Linked DNA regions of Homo sapiens. The gene in region 1 interacts genetically with each later gene. Each region holds a gene or a part of one and is shown in the gene's direction. Other genes may lie near its edges. The genes, in order: FARSB, LEO1 and EGFR.

Region 1 (3,658 bases):
ATACCAAGAAAGTTTACATAAGGTGCCAAACTCTCAGATCTAATAAGTGGGATAGAATTCAAACTCTGATTGACTTGGCTTCAAAGCCAAAAGTGTCAGGCCACCTCAGACCATTTTACCTGATAGGACTTATGTGACATTCTGTTGTGTGAGATCTGTGATTTGGAGCCTACTTTATATCTGATCTCTACTTAACAGGTGAACAGGTGTTTTTCTTCTGTGTACATGCAAACTTCCCAGTGCAGGTAACCTAAACTACAGTTGATATTAGTGTAGATTAATCAAGCCTTTAATAGTTTTTTCTTTTTTTTATCTTAAATTTTTTTGGCCCAGCTTTTTTTTTTTTTTTTTTTTTTTTTAATTTTTTGAGACGGAGTCTCGCTCTTGTCAGCCAGGCTGGAGTGCAATGTCATGATCTCGGCTCACTGCAACCTCTGCCTCCCAGGTTCAAGCAATTCTCCTGCCTCAGCCTCCCAAGTAGCTGGGATTACAGGCATGCGCCACCATGCCTGGCTAATTTTGTATTTTTAGTAGAGACAGGGTTTCACCGTGTTGGCCAGGCTGGTTTCAAACTCCTGACCTCAGATGATCCACACACATTGGCCTCCCAAAGTGCTGGGATTACAGGCATGAGCCACCATGCCTGGCCTGTTTGTTTTTAAATGATAATATGTGATGCCTGATATTTAGTAGTATGATTGGTGTAAGGCAATTAGTAATAAGAAAATGCAGTTTGTATGTAGTTTTCACTTATACTGAACAGAGTGAAATTAACCATCTCCTTTTTTATTTTCCTAGCTGACGAAGAATTTGATGAACTATGTTTTGAATTTGGTCTGGAGCTTGATGAAATTGTATGTATTGGATATTTGTCTATTTTTCAAAGATTGTGTGCATAAGCTTATTTTTCAGGGTTATACTGTATTTCATCTTTGTTACCTTATAGTTAGACTAAGGTGATAATGTTTGTGGGCCATGATTTCTGTGTTCAGAGGGCTAAGCTCCATGTCTGTCTGTTGCCTTGACTAAAATCTCAAAAGGAGTTCATGCCTTATTCCATCTACAATCACCTTGTTACCAGGCTCATGCTGTGGAAATGGATAGAATGTGTTAGATAACCCCAGTATGAAAGTAAGCTCCCTCCTTTGGCAAATTAATCACAGAAAGGGACCAAGAAGCAGTAGAAATGTTGCTTCAACCAGAGTTACCCTGCCTCCTTCACTTCCAGCGCCTCCTCCTTCAGCTCCTCTGCCCCCATAACCTTCCTCCGTGCCTCTTCAACCAGTACTAATGCATTACTATATTCATTGGTCTTGTAAAATGAACTAATATTTTTTAAGGACTTGCTTATAAAAATGAGGAAGCATTTTCTTTGACTTTTGATTGTATAATGATTACAATATTTAAAAAAATCAAGTCGGCTATACATTTTAATATTGTTAATAATGATTATCTATTAAAGACATACTTTAATTTGGTGGGGTTGGGGGTCTGAGTCCTTCCTCGCGGGGGCTTGATGGGTCCTGAGCATCCTCTGGCCGGGGTTTCTGATCCATCTGCTCCAGCATAAGTTCACAAAGTACAGTCCGCAGGCCAGCAGCATCATCTGGGAACTTAGGAAAAAACCAGCCCTACTGAACCAGAAACTGGGGATGTGGCCCAAGCAACCTTTTACCAAGCCCTCCAGGTGATTATAATGCAAGGAGAGACGAGGTTTTACCATGTTGGCCAGGCTGGTTCTCGAACTGCTGACCTCAAGTGATCCACTGCTTTGGCCTCCCAAAGTGCTGAGATTACAGGTGTGAGCCACCATGCCTGGCCCAATGTGCTTTATATAGTTTCACTCTGTTGCCCAGGCTGGAGTGCGACAGCGCGATCTTGGCTCACCACAACCTCCTCCTCTTGGGTTCAGGCGATTCTCCTGCCTCAGCCTCCTGAGTAGCTGGGATTACAGGAAGGAGTCCTTATCTTGGACCTGAGGCTGCTTTCTTGAAGAAAACTTGACTTTATTTCATTTAGTGGGAAGAGCAGCAGCCCAGCTAATAAGTTCTAATATGCAATAGGCTGCAGGCTGTGAAGTCTGAAGCTAAGGAGCTGAGGGCTTAACAAGTTTCTAGAAGCTGCCATCAACATGCCAAGTCAGTAAAACTGAAAGCTGGTCAGATTTCAAGGTCTGGGGAGGAATCCACTGCATAGTGGGTCTTGAGCTCTAGAGAGCTAGGCCTTGCTAAAATAAAAGAATTACCTTACCTACCATCTTTGTTCCAGGCTCCGTAGAATTTGTGACAGCCCTGGCTGACCTCCGAGCAGAGGCTAGCTGTCCCATCTGTCTGGACTACTTGAAAGACCCAGTGACCATCAGCTGTGGGCATAACTTCTGTCTCTCCTGCATCATTATGTCCTGGAAGGATCTAGATGATAGTTTCCCCTGCCCCTTTTGCCACTTGTGCTGTCCAGAAAGGAAATTTATAAGCAATCCCCAGCTGGGTAGTTTGACTGAAATTGCTAAGCAACTCCAGCTAAGAAGCAAGAGGAAGAGGCAGGAAGAGAAGCATGTGTGTAAGAAGCATAATCAGGTTTTGACTTTCTTCTCTCAGAAAGACCTAGAGCTTTTATGTCCAAGGTGCAGTTTGTCCACTGATCACCAGCATCGCTGTGTTTGGCCCATAAAGAAGGCTGCCTCCTATCAGGAAAAAACTGGAGCAATACAATGCACCGTGGAAGGAGAGAGTGGAACTAATTGAAAAAGTCATAACTATACAAACCAGAAAATCACTGGAACTGAAGAAAAAGGTAAAACATACGGCAGAAGAAGTCAAGTCTGAATTTGAGCAACTTAGGTTATTTCTGCAAAATGAGCAAGAGACTGTTTTTGGGCAATTACAAGATGACGAGATGGATATTTTAGCACAACTAAATGAAAGCCTAACAAAATTTTCAGATTATACCTCCTCATTAAAATATCTACTAAAGAAGATAGAGAGCATATATGTGAAGTCAGAACTGGAATTACTGGCTGATGTTAAGGATATCTATCACAGACATAAGAATTTAAAATTCCCTAAACCTTTTTTATTCAAATTAAAAGAATATGGTTACCATCTGTCTCCACAATATTGTGGCCAAAACAAAATTATCAAGCGATTTCAAGTAGATGTAATTCTAGATCCTGAAGCAGCACATCGTAAACTTATAGTCTCAGAAGATAGAAAAACTGTGCGATATGGAAATACAACACAAAACTTACCTCATAACCCAAGAAGATTTTATCTGCTCCCAGCTGTTCTGGGTTCTAAGGGATAAAATTGTGGCAGGCAGTACCGGGAAGTAGAAGTTAAAGACATGCCTGAATGGATTCTTGGTGTCTGTAGTGACTCTCCTCCCACAAGGAGGAAGAGTCAACCAATTTTAGTACAGGATGGATTATGGAGAATTTGGTAATCTAGTCGGAATAATTATATTGTATTGGGCCATAAGGAAATTATTCTGCTGCCAAAAGTAACACCTAGTAAGATTGGCATTTTTTTAGACTGTGAAATGAATGAGGTTTCCTTTTATAATTTGAATGATAGATCTCTTCTCTGTACTTTTAATGATGATTTTACAGGAGAACTTTGGCCTTATTTTTATACTGGAACTGACTCAAAACCTCTTAAAA
Region 2 (3,658 bases), on another chromosome or scaffold:
CCTTTTTTTTTTTGAGACGGAGTCTTGCTCTGTCGCCCAGGCTGGAGTGCAGTGGCGCAATCTCGGCTTACAGCAACCTCCGCCTTCTGGGTTCAAGTGATTATTCTGCTTCAGCCTCCCAAGTAGCTGGGACTACAGGCATGCACCACCACGCCTGGCTAATTTTTGTATTTTTAGTAGAGATGGGGTTTCACCATATTGGCCAGGCTGTTCTCAAACTCCTGACCTCGTGATCCACCCACCTCAGCCTCCCAAAGTGCTGGGATTACAGGCGTGAGCCACTGCGCCTGGCCTTCACTTACTTTTTTTTTTTGGAGACAGAGTCTCCCCTTTCATGCAGTGGCACGATCTCGGCTCACTGCAACCTCCGCTTCCTAGGTTTAAGGGATTCTTATGCCTCATTATTCCCAGTAGCTGGGATTACAGGCGTGTGCCCCCATGCCCAGCTAATTTTTGTATTTTTAGTAGACAGGGTTTCACCATGTTGGTCAGGCTGGTCTGGAACTCCTGACCTCAGGTGATCTTCCCACCTTGGGCTCCTAGAGTGCTGAGATTACAGGCATGAGCCACCGCACCCAGCCAAAAGATTTTATTGTCCTCTAAGACATTAACCAGTTTTGAACTTAACTTAGCAATATTATGTATTTATTTATTTATTTGAGATGGAGTCTTGGTCTGTTGCCCAGGCTGGAGTGCAGTGCTATGATCTTGGCTCACTGCAACCTCCATCTCCTGGGTTCAAGCGATTGTCCTGCCTCAGCCTCCCAAGTAGTGGGCTCACAGGCGTAAGCCACCATGCCTGGCTAATTTTTGTATTTTTAGTAGAGATGGGGTTTCACCATGTTGGCCAGGCTGATCTCAAACTCCTGACCTCAGGTGATCCAGCCACCTTGGCTTCCCAAAGTGTTGGGATTACAGGCATGAGCCACTGCGCCGGGCCTACTTTCTTAATAACGTCCTTTGCTGCACAAAAGTTTTTCATTTTGTGGAAGTCCAATTTATGTTTTCTTTTGTCTTCCATATCGTCTTAGTTTTTGAAGCATAATTTTACTGAATATAAAATTCTTGGTTGACAGTCTTTCTTTTTAGCACTTTGAATGTGTCCTCTTATGGATGGCTCTGGGATTCCTTGGTTTCTGATGAAAAATCAGCTGTTACTCTTATTGAGCGTTCCTCATATGGGATGAACTGCTTCTCTTTTGCCCGCTTTTGGAATTGTTTCTTTGTCTTTGACAGTCTGATAACAATGTTTCTAGGTGTAAACCTCTGTAAGTTTATCCTACTTGTCATTTGTTGAACTTGTTGGATGTGTAGATCTATATTTTTCATAAATTTGGGAGTTCTTCAGCTATCATTTATTTATTCTTTTGAGACAGAGTCTCGCTTTGTCACTCAGGCTAGAGTGCAATGGTGTGGTCTCGGCTCACTGCAACCTCCACCTCCTGGATCCAAGCGATTTTCCTGTTTCAGCCTCTCAAGTAGCTGGGATTACAGGCTTGCGCCACCATACCTGGCTAACTTTTGTATTTTTAGTAGAGATGGGGTTTTGCCATGTTGGCCAGCCTGGTCTCGAACTCCTGACCTCAAGTGATCTGCCCGCCTTGGCCTCCCAAAGTGCTGGGATTACAGGTGTGAACCACCATGCCTGGCCTCAGCTATTATTTAAGAATCTTTTTCTGCTCATTTCTCTTCTTCTGAGACTCCATTATGCATACATTGGTATAACTTAAGGTGTCCCATAAATCTTCTAGACTCCGTTCCTTTCTCTTTATTCTTTTTTCTTTCTGTTTCTCAGATTGGACAGTCGAACTGAGGTATCTTCAAGTTTACTGATTCTTTCTTTTTCCTGCTCAAATCTTTGGTTGAGCCCCTCTAGTGACTCTTTGATTTTAGTAAATATATTTTTCTTTTTCTTTTTCTTTTTTTTCTTTGAGACAAAGTCTCACTCTGTCGCCCAGGCTGGAGTGCAGTGGCTTGATCTCCGCTCACTGCAACTTCTGCCTCCCGGGTTCAAGTGATTCTCCTGTCTCAGCCTCCTGAGTAGCTGGGATTACAGGCATGTGCAACCATGCCTGGCTAAATTTTGTATTTTTAGTAGAGACAGGGTTTCGCTATGTTTGTCAGGCTGGTCTCGAACTCCTGACCTCAGGTGATCTGCCTGCCTCGGCTTCCCAAAGTGCTGGGATTACAGGCGTGAGCCACTGCACCCGGCCTTAGAATGTTAATTCTAACAGTTTTTGCCAGTTTCTTCATTGCTTTTATGTTGGGATGGACTTTGGGACTGCCTTACTCTGCCTTTTTTTGCTTATGTTATCCTATGTTTATATGACCCCATAGATTCTGATTCTGGATCTGACTCAGATTCTGATCAAGAGAATGCTGCCTCTGGCAGTAATGCCTCTGGAAGTGAAAGTGATCAGGATGAAAGAGGTGATTCAGGACAACCAAGTAATAAGGAACTGTTTGGAGATGACAGTGAGGACGAGGGAGCTTCACATCATAGTGGTAGTGATAATCACTCTGAAAGATCAGACAATAGATCAGAAGCTTCTGAGCGTTCTGACCATGAGGACAATGACCCCTCAGATGTAGATCAGCACAGTGGATCAGAAGCCCCTAATGATGATGAAGACGAAGGTCATAGATCGGATGGAGGGAGCCATCATTCAGAAGCAGAAGGTTCTGAAAAAGCACATTCAGATGATGAAAAATGGGGCAGAGAAGATAAAAGTGACCAGTCAGATGATGAAAAGATACAAAATTCTGATGATGAGGAGAGGGCACAAGGATCTGATGAAGATAAGCTGCAGAATTCTGACGATGATGAGAAAATGCAGAACACAGATGATGAGGAGAGGCCTCAGCTTTCCGATGATGAGAGACAACAGCTATCTGAGGAGGAAAAGGCTAATTCTGATGATGAACGGCCGGTAGCTTCTGATAATGATGATGAGAAACAGAATTCTGATGATGAAGAACAACCACAGCTGTCTGATGAAGAGAAAATGCAAAATTCTGATGATGAAAGGCCACAGGCCTCAGATGAAGAACACAGGCATTCAGATGATGAAGAGGAACAGGATCATAAATCAGGTAATACATTTATGAGAACCAGAATGGCTCAGAAAGAAGCATTCAGATACAGCAGGGACCCATTTAGTCTTTATTCCCATCTTTATTACCCTGTTTTTTCTCTTCTGTCCCCTCCCTTTCAAACTTTTCTAACTCTAGAATACATTTTGCTTCTTTTAAATCTTTCTAATCCACTTATTCTTTCTTACTCCTTTCCCTTCCATTTGTTAATGGATAGGTCTGGGGGAAAACAATTTAAAGAGGACTTAAAATTGAGTCTTAGAGGGAGGGATATGGTGTAAGAAGAGCTGATAATGAGTTAAGTTGATTCCATTTCTGTGGATAACTGAAGAGCATGCCTCATGTGAGAGAATAGATTAGCCTGGGGAAAAAAACCATACCATTGAAGTGTCCCCACAGAGCAGCTGTACTGAGATGTGGGCACCATTGCTGCAGCTCAGCTTTTTGAGATCCAAAATTTGATCATCCAGAGATGGTCAAGCTCTAAGGAGTTTACTCAAACTAGTCAAATTTACAAGATATTAATGTATAAAATTGAATTGCAAAATTGTTTCAAGAGGATCAG
Region 3 (3,658 bases), on another chromosome or scaffold:
TGTCCCAGATCGCATTATTAAACCCTCCAGCGCATTAGAGCAAGCCTCAGTAAGGCGCAGGCCACATCGTGAACTAAGCAGCATCCGTGAGTGGGGCCCACCCAACTCCATCTCCCCCTCCCCGTCTGAACTCTCCTCTGGTGCTCGTCCTCACTGTCCGGCTAGCCAAAGCCTCAGCTGGGTCTAAGAGAGAAGCATGGTCTATTGGGCTTTGGTGTCAGGCAGACGTGGCTTCACACCCCTGACTCTCCACTTCTTCGCATCACCCAGGCAGCCGATCCACCTATCTCCTTCCATAACACAGGAATACCAAAACCAAGCTCACAGGATTGTCTCAAAGATTCAATAAAATATGTTGCAAAATACGCTCCCTAACACCTCACAGCAAGGTGCACACTCGATGAATGCTGCAGCTTCTTCCCTTTCTGTTTCCTCAGAAGCTATTTGAATCTCATGTAGGGGCTTTCAAGCATCAAAGGATGGTTCATGTTTTATTTTAAGGCACCCACATCATGTCATGAGGGGAGGCAGCTATAATTTAGAGAACCAAGGGGGATTTCATTATAACAAAATTGGCAAACACACAGGCACCTGCTGGCAATAGACCCCTGCTCCTATAGCCAAGAAGTGGAATAGCATCTCTACGGGCCATTCTAATAGCCTCAAAATCTCTGCACCAGGGGGATGAAAGAATGCATTTGCCAAGTCCTACAGACTCCAACTTCTACCGTGCCCTGATGGATGAAGAAGACATGGACGACGTGGTGGATGCCGACGAGTACCTCATCCCACAGCAGGGCTTCTTCAGCAGCCCCTCCACGTCACGGACTCCCCTCCTGAGCTCTCTGGTATGAAATCTCTGTCTCTCTCTCTCTCTCAAGCTGTGTCTACTCATTTGAACAAATTGAATTTTAGGGAAAATAACCATCTAGTGAAACTCACATGGATATGAAGTCAATTTTAACCAAATGGTAAAATCAAAATCAAAATAAATTAAGTGTATTAATTATTTTGTTGCATTGCAACAACTTGATTGTAAGCCTTTTAGGTCCACTATGGAATGTAATTAAATCAAAACTAAACCTAGTTGCTCTAAAACTAACGATTAAGACAAAAATTAAACACCTTCACAATATACCCTCCATGAGGCACACCACCTGCATTCAGGAAAAGTGGATGAGATGTGGTACAAGCATTCCATGGGCAACTTCTCTGTTTCTTTTTCAGAGTGCAACCAGCAACAATTCCACCGTGGCTTGCATTGATAGAAATGGGGTATGTATGAACACCTTATAAGCCAGAATTTACAGCTCTCCACTATGGCTCTATTTTACATGGAAAATGCCTTAACCTAAATAATTTTAACCCAGATAATCTTGAGTTTTCTTCCTGTGTGGGTTTTTCCCTGCACGGCTGTCACGCCTCACAGTGCCGTTCAAAGCGTGACTCCTGGACCAGTAGTAGCATCGCCTGGCCTTGTTAGAAACGCCATTTTTCAGGCCACTGCCCCAGTTTGACCAAATCAGGACCTCTGGGGGTGGCACCCAGTAGTCTATGTTTGAGCCACTTTCCAGGTGATGCTGATGTCTGTTGAAGTGTGAGGCCGTGGTCTAGACCGCACTGTGCCATGCAGAAACCACTAGCCACATGTGGCTACTTCAACTTAAATGTTAATGAGTTAAAATGAAATAAAATATAAAATTCAGTTTCTCACACATGTGAAGTGTCCAGTAGCCACACGTGGCTAGTGGTGACCGTATTGAAGAGCACCGCTCATAGCACACCTCCCTCACTGCGGAAAGTTCTGCTGTACAGCACCCAGCACAGCCCTGCTGCCCACCCTGCAGCCTGTGGCCCAGTAGCACCAGCACCCACCAGGGTGCAGACTCTCAGGCCTGCCCAACCTACTAATCAGAACCAGCATCTCAAGGAGATCTCGGGTGATTTTTGCAAACACTGAAGTTGGGGCAGCCCTGACCGGAGTAACCTTCCCTCATTTCCTCCTGCAGCTGCAAAGCTGTCCCATCAAGGAAGACAGCTTCTTGCAGCGATACAGCTCAGACCCCACAGGCGCCTTGACTGAGGACAGCATAGACGACACCTTCCTCCCAGTGCCTGGTGAGTGGCTTGTCTGGAAACAGTCCTGCTCCTCAACCTCCTCGACCCACTCAGCAGCAGCCAGTCTCCAGTGTCCAAGCCAGGTGCTCCCTCCAGCATCTCCAGAGGGGGAAACAGTGGCAGATTTGCAGACACAGTGAAGGGCGTAAGGAGCAGATAAACACATGACCGAGCCTGCACAAGCTCTTTGTTGTGTCTGGTTGTTTGCTGTACCTCTGTTGTAAGAATGAATCTGCAAAATTTCTAGCTTATGAAGCAAATCACGGACATACACATCTGTGTGTGTGAGTGTTCATGATGTGTGTACATCTGTGTATGTGTGTGTGTGTATGTGTGTGTTTGTGACAGATTTGATCCCTGTTCTCTCTGCTGGCTCTATCTTGACCTGTGAAACGTATATTTAACTAATTAAATATTAGTTAATATTAATAAATTTTAAGCTTTATCCAGATACTCATAACCTGCTAACACACACACATATACACACACATACACATACACACATATACACACACCACACACATACACAGACACCACACACATACCATACACAGACACATACACATGCACACACATATACACACACACCTCAAATACATACACACCACACACACATACATGTATACACACATACACACACCACACATACACCACAAAAACCCCACACACATACACATATACACACCACACACACCACATACACACACGTATACACACATATATACACACATACACCATGCATACATACACACCACACATACATACAGACACACCACACACACGTACACACAACACACAACACAGACACGTACACACACTACAGACATGTATGCACACATACACACACACCACACATACATACACACAGACACATATACACTACACACACCATTACATACACACGTACACATACACCACACACACCACACATACACACACCACACACACATACGCCACACACACACCACAAAAACCGCACACACATACAAACATATACACACTACACCACACATACACACACACACCACACACCACACACACACATACACACACCACACACACCACACATACACGCACCACACATACACACACGTAGACACACCACACACACCACAGAAACACACATTAACACACCACATACACATATGTATGTGCATATACACACCCACACCCCACACACACATGTATAAAGATTTAGATATATATAAAACATATGTTATATATATGTTGATGTAATATCTAATATCTATATATCTAATATGTAGTTTATTAGCTATCTAATATCTATGTCATATATATCAAAATCTTTATATATAAAAATATGTAGAAATCTTTATACATATGTTATATGTATATAAAGATTTAGATATATAACATATGTAAGTTATATATATGTTAGTGTAATATCTAATATATAGTTTATTGGCTATCTAATATAATATAAACAGATTATCAATATTATAAGCTATTAGAAAAATGCAAGTTAAGGCAGATGATATACCTCTTTACACACCAACTACACACACCAACTACACACACA

What was found.
Region 2: changes in FARSB (region 1) and LEO1 together harm fitness more than expected from each alone (negative genetic interaction), as found in Homo sapiens cells (one large-scale study listed by BioGRID).
Region 3: changes in FARSB (region 1) and EGFR together harm fitness more than expected from each alone (negative genetic interaction), as found in Homo sapiens cells (one large-scale study listed by BioGRID).

Annotation. Positions count from the first base shown.
Region 1 is NC_000002.12:222,645,936-222,649,593, reverse strand, and holds part of FARSB (phenylalanine--tRNA ligase beta subunit), read left to right. Parts: intron 1-798; coding exon 799-854; intron 855-1,468; exon of another isoform or gene 1,469-1,753; intron 1,754-2,597; exon of another isoform or gene 2,598-2,793; intron 2,794-3,247; exon of another isoform or gene 3,248-3,658.
Region 2 is NC_000015.10:51,965,184-51,968,841, reverse strand, and holds part of LEO1 (RNA polymerase-associated protein LEO1), read left to right. Parts: intron 1-2,337; coding exon 2,338-3,093; intron 3,094-3,658. UniProt on the Homo sapiens protein: Component of the PAF1 complex (PAF1C) which has multiple functions during transcription by RNA polymerase II and is implicated in regulation of development and maintenance of embryonic stem cell pluripotency.
Region 3 is NC_000007.14:55,200,508-55,204,165, forward strand, and holds part of EGFR (epidermal growth factor receptor isoform a precursor), read left to right. Parts: intron 1-680; coding exon 681-848; intron 849-1,227; coding exon 1,228-1,275; intron 1,276-2,009; coding exon 2,010-2,118; coding exon of another isoform or gene 2,119-2,258; exon of another isoform or gene 2,259-2,569; intron 2,570-3,658. UniProt on the Homo sapiens protein: Receptor tyrosine kinase binding ligands of the EGF family and activating several signaling cascades to convert extracellular cues into appropriate cellular responses.